Regions from separate parts of the Homo sapiens genome. Here all the other regions are reported to be linked to region 3. The links are microRNA targets in miRTarBase. Many come from high-throughput screens and were not tested one by one. Region 3 holds a microRNA gene; each other region holds the end of a gene's coding sequence.
What was found. The annotated mature microRNA hsa-miR-218-5p reads UUGUGCUUGAUCUAACCAUGU and lies in region 3 at 1,637-1,657, opposite strand. An mRNA with a match to its seed (bases 2 to 7 or 8) in the 3' UTR can be bound and repressed. Matches are read on the target gene's strand: a 7mer-m8 pairs with bases 2 to 8, a 7mer-A1 pairs with bases 2 to 7 and ends in A, and an 8mer does both.

Region 1: miRTarBase lists ZFAT as a target of hsa-miR-218-5p. The part of its 3' UTR that is shown has no 7-base or 8-base seed match.
Region 2: the mRNA of MFN2 is a reported target of hsa-miR-218-5p. The part of its 3' UTR that is shown has no 7-base or 8-base seed match.

What each region holds. Positions count from the first base shown.
Region 1 is chr8:134,475,681-134,478,930 of GRCh38, forward strand. It overlaps ZFAT (zinc finger and AT-hook domain containing), which reads right to left. Exons shown (of 16, transcript NM_020863.4): 16 at 2,108-3,041. The coding sequence ends at 2,802. Among named protein-coding and RNA genes, the nearest start is that of ZFAT, 240 kb to the right of the region's middle.
Region 2 is chr1:12,011,179-12,014,428 of GRCh38, reverse strand. MFN2 (mitofusin 2) reads right to left here. Exons shown (of 19, transcript NM_014874.4): 19 at 921-2,933. The coding sequence ends at 2,864. Among named protein-coding and RNA genes, the nearest start is that of MIIP, 6.7 kb to the left of the region's middle.
Region 3 is chr5:168,766,575-168,769,824 of GRCh38, forward strand. MIR218-2 (microRNA 218-2) reads right to left here and starts at 1,681; the gene lies at 1,572-1,681. All of the region lies in intron 14 of SLIT3 (slit guidance ligand 3), which reads right to left.

The DNA of each region.
Region 1 (3,250 bases), not on the chromosome of region 3:
CTGGTTCTGCCACTTCCTGTGTGACCTCAAGCAAGTTACTTAACCTCCCCATGCTAACAGTTCCCATCAATAAAATTCTAACAAGAGCACCAAACTCACTGGGTTGCTGTGATGAGAACACCCATACTCCCGACATAGAGTAAGCTCTATAGAAGTGCCAGTCTTCAGTCTTAGGAAGACACAGGTGGACAGGAAGTCTGAATAGGAAGATGCCCATGAAAGGGCCTCGTATGGTATCTGGCACACAGCAGGTACTTTACACACATTCTAAAACAGGGAGGTAGAGAATTCAGCCTTTTAGCACAAGCTTTTACCTTGCCTGACACAAAAAACACCTGGAGTCAAAAAGCACCCGAAAACAACAGCCAAGGGGGTCGGGAGCAGTGAGAAGCTCCATCTCACAGTCACATGAACGGACCACTGGCTTTGAAAGCTTCCCCTCTGAGCCCAGCATCAGCTCCCCAGGAAAGAACCACGGAGAACCAGGCCTCCTGCCTGCCCCACCCACACACCTACCAGGCCTGGTCAGCCAGGACCACAGGCAATGCTTCACCTCAGCTTCCTGCATTTCCTCGTAATCCAAGAGGACAGGAAGGGAAGGGAAGTACACAGGGTCTGTGTGTCCAGGCAGGGCAGGCTCCGCATTCAGGCTGCGCAGAGCACAGAGCACACCCCAGGAGTCCTCCCAGGCCACCTTCACGGCCTCCCCCCCCCACTACCTTATGCCCTTGAGGGAGGAGTGTGAGGGATACTCATGTTTAAGACCCCCATGCCAGGAATACAAGCAATCTGTGATATTTCCAGAGTGTGGGCCAGGACACTGCTAACAGCTTCAGGGGCTTCACTCATTTAATCCTTTTAATCATCAGGAGTCAGCGATTATCCTCGGACCCATTTCAGACATGGGTAAACTAAGGCTAAGAGGTCTGGTGGCATGGCAAGGTCACGTGGATAAGTGACAGAGCAGGGTTTGAGCCCAGGTCCTCTGCCTGTGAGCTGGGCACTCACCTATCTCAACACAGACCACACCGATGCATGGGCAAGATGTCTCATTCTGGAGAACCACCCTGACCTCCTCACCCTTCCCCTCCTCTATCAAATGCCACTGCCTGCCCCACAGCTTACAGAGTAAAATCCACATCCATCATTTCACATCCCTGCTCTTCTAGGATCTGGCTTCTGCTGATTTTTCTGCCCTTCCCTTTAGAGTTGCTCCCAGCCAAACACAAATTCTCATGGCTCAAGTCCATCTCCCACACTGCCCACCCCAGGGGGCGCTGTGACTCTTCTTTGGAATTCCTTTCCCACTCCCTCCCACCCCAATCCCTGGAGGTGCAAAGCCCATCTAGGTTCCCAGGCCCTATCACAGGTCACCTCCACCGTGAAGCTTTCCCTAACTCATCCCAAGTCAGCAGTGTTCTCCCTCTTCCTTGCTTAAGGCAAGGAGTCACTTTTCTACTTGAATCAGAGAAGCAGCTTTTAAGCTTCTCCCAGGAGGTGCCCTCAGGCCCTGCTGGGGTGAGGTGAGAGGGCTGGTAACAGGGAGGGCCAAGTGAACTCTGCCCTCTTCAACAGGGTGGCTACTCTTTTATTTGCTTCTAAACCTGCATCAGATTTCATTGCAAGAAAGGGTTCTCGGAGGAAACAAACCTTGACCTCAGGGTGTCAGATGTGAAGATGTCAAGACACCCCAGGGCCAGGCTGGGTGTATCAGGACTCAAGTCAATGCCCCCACAATGCTGTGCACAGAGCAGGAGTTCCAAACATATGGCATCTATGTTGAGCACCCAGACTAGAAACCTTGGTCACATAGTCCTGTGTTATGACACCTCTGATGGTCATTGCATTGTTCCTCCCAAATACACAGTGGACAAGAGGGCACTGCCACTTCTTGGCTGGCAGCAAATCAAATGCTGGGTGCCAGGAAATGGAAGGTGAGATCATTAACGTCAAAAGGTTTCCAAAGCAAACCTAAATGCAGAGGAAAGAGCACCATCTGCATTTTAAGGGCCTGGGTTTGGATGGGGTCCTTCTGGGTGGGCCCCAAATCCAAGATTTCAACTTGGGAAGGGGAAATGTAAGCCATCCCGCCTGAAGAACCAAAGCATTCAGACAGGAACTGTTTTTATTCCAACCACCTCACCTCCTTAGAATGGGAGGCGAACAGTGAAATAGTGCATTTATCTTAAAAGTGAAATAATTCCAGGATGGTAGGGCGAGACCCTGTGATGGGTGAATTTACCTCACTTGATACCAAGGGCCCTTAATACTCGGGGAAGTGGGACTTTGTCGACAAAGCCAGGACAATCCCCCTACCCCCACCCCACCCAGCAGTGATTAAAAACCCGTACGGTCACTTTCTATGTGATGGCTGTCTCCCTCTCACCAGACTGCATAGCGGTTGCAGATGAACATTTGGCACCTAGATGGGGGTCAAGGAGCTGGGGCTGTGATTCAGGGAAGATGCTGAGGGGGACTGGGAGTCTCTGTTTGAATCTTGAAGCAAGGGGTGAAGGTGTGGGGTGTGTGTAGGGGAGCTGACACTGAAGTCTTTCAGGAAGCAGATGGTAAGGGTCAGGGGGTGTGTGTCTATGCTGGGGTGAGGGTCCTGTGGTATTGCTGGTGATGCTGACTGCCTTGCCCACCCCAAGTTGGACTAGGAGAGTCCTATCAGGCTGCTGGGCAGGGAGGGCAAAGGAGAGCACCATTCTGCGGGTAGGGCAGGAAGGGTGGCCTCCCCACCCTGGGTGCCTGCAGAGCCTGGCAGCCCCGCCCTGTGGCCATCCGATGCCACATGTCCTCTAGAGTTCCTGGGCCGGCTGCTCCACAGCCTGCTCCTCCACAGGCTGCATGGCCTCCTGCACGTAGACGATGAACTCCGAGGCCTCCCCGCCCTGCGTGTAGACAGTCACCGTCTCAATGCCCTCCACGTCGTCGGAGGACACCACCAGGTGGTGCTGCTCGGCAAGCTCCACGGACGCTTGCTGGACCGTCTCCTGGATCATGACCGTGTGGTTGGAGCTGGGCTCCTCCTCGGTGACCTGCGGGAGGAGGGCAAGAGAAAGGTCACCCAGCGCCTACTTCCCGGTCCAGCGTAACAACAAAGTCACAACTACAGTTTAGGAGGCACCAGTGCGCTGCGGGAGCACGTCCATTCTCCACGGATCCTCTCTACCAGGCTGTGCTTGCTCTCATGCCCATTTTACAGCTGAACAGAATGAGGTTCAGCAATGTAGGGCAACGTGGTCAG
Region 2 (3,250 bases), not on the chromosome of region 3:
GGATAGGCGGGGACAAGGCAGGAACAGGAACCTAGATCCGGGCTGATGGTTATGATGGAGGTGAGGAAACTGGGCAGGGTCAACAGACTTGGAAGACAGCAGGTGACAGATTTGGTGCAGCACGTGTGACCGTGGACTCGAGGGTGATGCCCCAAGTGTGTAGCCTGGGAATCTGGAAGGATGAGGTTGCTATCAGCTGAGCTGTGGCCTCTGTGGGCGAGCAGGGCGGACACTGGGCAGCACCAGAGCCAAGAGGACAGCTGTAGGGGCGGGGAAACTGACTGACTACCCCTGTATCTACTCCTGAGGACCCTTAAAAAAAAAAAGAAAAAAAAGCGGTGGCTCACACCTGTAATGCCAGCACTTTGGGAGACCGAGGCAGGTGGGTCACAAGGTCAGGAGTTTGAGACCAGTATGGCCAAGATGATGAAACCCTGTCTCTACTAAAATACCAAAATTAGCCAGGCCTGGTGGTCGGCGCCTGTAATCCCAGCTGCTTGGGAGGCTGAGGCAGAGAACTGCTTGAACCCGGGAGGCGGAGCTTGCAGCGAGCCGAGATCGTGCCACTGCACTCCAGCCTGGGCGACAGAGCGTGACTCCATCTCAAAAAAGAAAAAAAAAAAAAAGAATAGTGGCAACCAAATTCTCAGAAGGCAAAGCAGGATGGAACAGTGAGTCATTTACTTTTTAAGTGAAAAATGGTCTGGAGTTACAGAGAAATCTGTAAAGAAATCAGTCTCGATTTCCTGATCCTTAAAGATCAGTTAAACCATCTGTTCTTTTGAGAGTATCAAATTCCTTCCAAGAATAAGGAGCCAGATTATAGTGGGAACTTCCCCAAAGTTATGGTCACTTCAGAATACAGCTGGCCATGTCAAAGAGGAGTTTGTACAAGAACCCAAAAAGACAGATCTCACAAAGGATTTCCAACTAGGTTTTATTTTAGTTTCCAATATTATGAGCAATGATACAGGAGTAACTCAAGCAAATACATCACCTTAAATACATCAGAGAAAACTCACTGTGTCAGCACGTCTTGCGCTCCAGCAAATGAACATAAAAACAACAATGTCAGCAGCATTAAAGTGCTTTTGGCCATACTTCTTTCAGAAAGGGTCTCTCCCTCAGTGGTATAAATTTAATTTTACGTATTGAAGAAGCTCAAAATTTCATTCATTCCCCAGGGGCTACATTGAAAAAAAATTCATGTTTACGCTAAAGAATTTTTTTTTTTCAAAAAGAGCACAAAATCCATTGGAATTGTGTGACAGTGATTTTCCCTGACATGCTGTGAAGTGGCCCCTGTCCATTCAGGCCCGGCACACGCCGGGAACATCCACCCACAGCATGTCCACCTGGCAGAGTCCATCACTTCGCCCCACACAACAGGACAGACTGAGGGCTTTAAATACAAGCAGGTATGTGAACAGGACATCACCTGTGATGTGGCCACCAAACAGTGCACAGAGGCTACCAACTCATTTCCTCAAAGATGAGTGATGGCTGGGCTGCTGGGCCCCTGCCTTGTGGGCTGCTTTTTGGGAGAGGTGTTGCTTATTTCTAGGAAGCGATCCAACTTGTGCCACACAGGATTTGTCACCCAAACTGCTTTTCTCACACAGTCAACACCTTGGTGACAGGCATCTGCCCCCACTTCAACCAGTAACAATCCCAAAACTCAACATCAGCATAAAGACAAGGGGGTCAGTCGAAGGTTCTGGAGATCAGGGAGGGTGGAAAGATGGACACTGGGTTTTCCACATTGTCCCTTGGCCAACTGCAGTCACTGGCACAGGAAATTTAGTCCAGGGCACTTGGGACAAGGTTGGGGGTGGGGTGGAAACATGTCTCTTAAAGGGCACAACAGGGATGCAATCAAGCCTAGTGGGTGGGGGCTCTCAGACCCATGAGCCCCTCGCAGAACGAGGCCAAGTGGACGGCCCATTCTCCAGCTGTCCTGTGTGGGGCCCATGCACCTCAGCCAGCCACCAACGTCCCCACCTTCCACCATCCATCCTTCTACTACATCCTTCAACCACCTAGACCATGCCATCTTCCAAAACAGATCTACACAAAACAGGCCTGCACAAGTCCAGGACTGACACTAAAGCAAAGGACACAATAATGAGAAGAGAGGCAAGTCCCTCCTTGTCCCAGTGACTGCCACCTGCTCTGCCAGCTCCCCATACATCCAACAGCCCTCCCCTCTGAGCTACTCCCACTCCTCCAGCTGCCTCAGCAGCATCCTTTCTACCACCCCCAGCACAGGGCCCGCCTCAGCCTAAGCCCAGGGGTAACTGAGCCTCACCACCAAGACGTGTCTGAGGCTCTGCAAATGGGATGAAGCACTGAGCCAACAGGCGAGATGGACACACACAAGCCACAGTCCTTCTGGGACAGACTCTCTGGGAAGAAACTCCAATCGTCCCTTACACCTGCAGGTGTGCTGGGCTGCAAGGAGGGCAGGTGCGCACAGGCTGGAGGAAGGTGGGGGTGTCTGTGTGATACCCTCAAAGGCTTCCATGAGGCATTGTGCAATGCTGAGATCCTGAGGCCTTATCAAGCAATCAAATGAACCAGAGAAAGCTGGAAAAAGCCTCAACTTAACTCCTTGGTACCATGCTGTCCATAGCTGTCGCTGAAAGTGTCCTTTGGGGGTATGAGCCAGCTCTTCCAGCAACAGCAGGCAAAGGTGGGGGAAAATAAGTAGTGCTGGAGGGCTCAAAATGGTACGAGACTGGGTGCTTCATTCTCTTGGCAGTGGCCAGGGGGCAGGAGCCACACGTGCCCCTGGGGGAGCCCACATGGCACTTAGGGCTGGCAGCACCGCCCCTCTCCACGCAGACTCCGCCTCAGGTGCCCACTATCTGCTGGGCTGCAGGTACTGGTGTGTGAACATGTTGAGCTCACTGTCCAACCAACCGGCTTTATTCCTGCAAAGAAATGGTTCTTTTGTAACCATGATAGCTGATGATAGGCAGTATTAGGACTACCCGCCAGGCACCATCCTAAGGACGCTTGACACACACCCTTACATCATCCTCCAACAATCGTGTTTATCCCTGTCTCACAGATGGGGAAAAGGAGGCCCAGAGGGGTTAAATAACTTCCCAAGGCCACACGGCTAATAAGCCAGGGAGCTACAAGTTAGGCTTTTCTGATTCTCAAGCCCTGTGTTTCCTTCACCCAGGACCATGTGCAAGTCCCTGAGCTGTCGGGAACTCAGTTTCCCTGCTTGCCAAGCAAGGGG
Region 3 (3,250 bases):
AACAGAGGGAAATACCCATGGTCTGAGGCTGGCACTGCCTCATCACAGCCTGTGGCTGCGGGGCCAGTAAAGCACTGATGGAAGGGCACCATTATGGACCCACTCCCAGAGGCCTGGTCCCTGCCATGTTAGGGGCAGTGCCGAGGGCCTCAGAATGCCCCTCTCTGTAAGGTGGGAAAGGGAACTTCTCCAGGCTCGAGGATTTGCTCTGTGTTAAATGGGATCTTTGTATGTCCATGCTGGAGAGGAACAGCCATTTGAATAATGCTTTCTCTCTTACTCAAGTTCTTTCTACTAACAGATGAAAGTCTGAAAGGGAGAGTTTAAGCAAATTTCAAGTCCCTATCAAATCACAGTTTTTAAATGTTCTAATTCAAGGCAATGGGGTTGTCCACAGCTGGGAAGGTGGGTATTACAGCAGTACAGTGCAGCCATTCTGGAATCAGATGACCCTGGGTAAGTTAGCTAACCTCTCTGAGCCTCAATATCCTCATCTGTAAAGTGGGACTTTAGATTTTGTGAACATTAAACAAGGTAATGATGTGAAAACAGTTCACTGCCTGGCCTATAGCAAGCACTCAATGTATGTTAAAAAACTACTAAGCAATGGTTGGGCTCCTGGTTCTGAGGGGTAACCTCAGATAGACGAGGTAATAAGAGTCACACCTCATGATGGGGGCCCAGGGCTCAGCTTCTAGTTCTGAGCTAGGCTAAAGTTCCCACCTTAGCTCTCTCTTGCAGAATAGGACAAAGACTCCAGGACAGGAATGAACAACACAGTCTTCTGGTTACACTGGGTCTAGGATTTATCAAGGAACAAGCAAAATAAGAGGTACCAAGATCCCTCTCTTTATTATCAGAGATAGCAGGTTTCCACGTCCACACACACTCCCCTCCCCTGAAACAGAATTAGCACCAGGTGAGGAGCCCAGCACCTCCACGTTAACTGTGCTTTGCAGGTCAAGGAAACAGACTGGACTTTAGGTTTCATGGGGTTCAGGGACTGTGTTTTCATAAAGTATGGGAATGAGGTTCAGAAGGAACCTTGGGTTAAACCCAAAGTCTCAGACTCACATGAGTTTCACCCATTCTCATGCTGACGTTCATTTCAAATAAAGTGAATACCAATAAAGGTGGTGGTGGGAGGGGTCGGGGGTCACAAGCAGTAGGAATTCCCCTTTGGGTTAGCTGCCACTTGGAAAAATGACCTTGGGTTGGGACTCTCCCATGAAACCATGGGGCGTATGCCTTGGGTATACTTGTTCCCTTCCAGTGGAAGAAGAGACACAGTAGTTTCTGAGCTTGAACCTAGTTATTACTCCTTGTCTGACATCCAGACTAGATTTGGGGGAGGGTGACTCCATTTTGGGAAAGAGATGTGGATACAGATCTCTTTCCCCAGGGTGCTTCTCCAGACCCATTTCCCTCTGTATCTGCATCCTTTGAGACTCCTACCCTCCTGCCTTTGGTGAGTTGAGACTGGGAGAGGTGGGTCTGGCAGGTGGTGGGCTGCGGTGCTCCAGAGCAGAGGAGAGGTGTCCAGCGGTGGTGGCGGCGGTGGCGGGCCATGCTGCAGGAGAGCACGGTGCTTTCCGCGGTGCTTGACAGAACCATGTTCCGTTTCCATCGTTCCACCACATGGTTAGATCAAGCACAAAGGAAAGCCCCGCAGCGACTGGTCAGAGTCAAGGTCAGGAAGCAGCGTCAGAGAGAGGACAGGAGCGCTCAGAGGAAGCAGCGTGGAGAAGCGGAAGCCGGAGCAGGCCCCCACTGAGCGTGATTAGTATCAGGAGTGGGGTTCCACTGGAACACTTCCGAAGATTGCAGCCCTGCTGCCCTTGTGCCCCACCCCAGGGAGACACAGTAGGAAGGGAGAAGAACGGGAGGGAAATCACTGGATGCCCATACTCGGGAGCTTCAGGACAGCATGGTTCCTTCCCAAGGAAAGAAAGAACACTCAGACATCTGTGATCCTATCACATGCCTGAATTGAGCCTCTAAACTCCATTCAGTCACACCAGTTGGTCTGACAAGACATTAAACTTAGAAAAGCATCTTCTGCATGCTTTGCAACATAGGCCCAATCCCCCCAACAGCTGAGTGGTTCCATCACAGTCATTCCTCTAGCCCCTTAAGTCAAGAGACAATCCACAGTTCCCAGTGGTCTAGCAAACCTTCAATGCTGTTCTTTAGGAAAAAGCCCCCTTTGACATTCCACAATTCAGGAGTCTCCTTTATATCCTTTGAGGTCAGCAGGAATGCTCTGGCTGATAGACACTCATCCCAGATCATTTGAGGTTTAATAGAGGAGCAGTGGGGTGTCAAAAGAAAATATATCTCTCTAGCCAGAGAGAAAGACAGGAAAACAAATGGGGCCGTAGGGTTTGGACTGAGGAACCTGCAATCATAGTTGTTGTTTGAGAACACTGACTTTCACAGAGATGGTGGCCAGTGCGCCTCCTGATGAAGGGCCTCTTTGAGACTAAGAGAAGGAAGGAAAGGGAAGCCAAGTGATGAGTCTGAGGGGAAGACACTGAATTCTGGGGTCCTTCTTGATTTCTTGTTCTCTTCCTTAGCTGGAAATTATGGGAGCGAACAGGATGAACCAATAACCACTGTCAGGATGCCAAAGGCCCAGGTGAGGGTACCCAGTTTTTATATTCCTCTCTGTGATAGATCAGGGTCAGTTTCCATGAACCTGCTGACTTGGGACTTCCTCCCACTTGGCATTAGGCTGGAGATGTGCATCTTGAAGAAACTGGAGCTAAGGCTAAGTGACTGAGACCCTCCCTGCCTGACCTCTGACATGAGAACCAGTATCAACATTCTTCCACTATGTGTTTTTGGGACTGGGCATATCCTCTAGATGGTCTCAGCATCTCAACGGTGCATAGGTTGTCTGCCATGTTGGACCAGTTAGGAAGAGCCAGCCCACAGCTCTGGGTCTGTCTGGCCTCTCCTCCTTCCTAAGGTCTCTCATCACACGCACTAGAGTCAGCCACTAGAATCTGGACTCCACTCTGCTTTGACACCTATGCAGGGCTCTGTGAACACTGTGGTTCTGGGACTTCAAATGTGAGTTTGATTAGGACCCTGGTACAAGAGCAGGGGAAATCCATCCTGTTCGTGCAAACCGCCACCCTCACCAAGCCTTAAAATCTAATTTTCTTTCTCTTTGGTTTCTTCCTACAAAAAGAAATGGAGGGATTTGTAGGTAAATTATCAAGAGTCTTCACAGTATGTCAGAAGT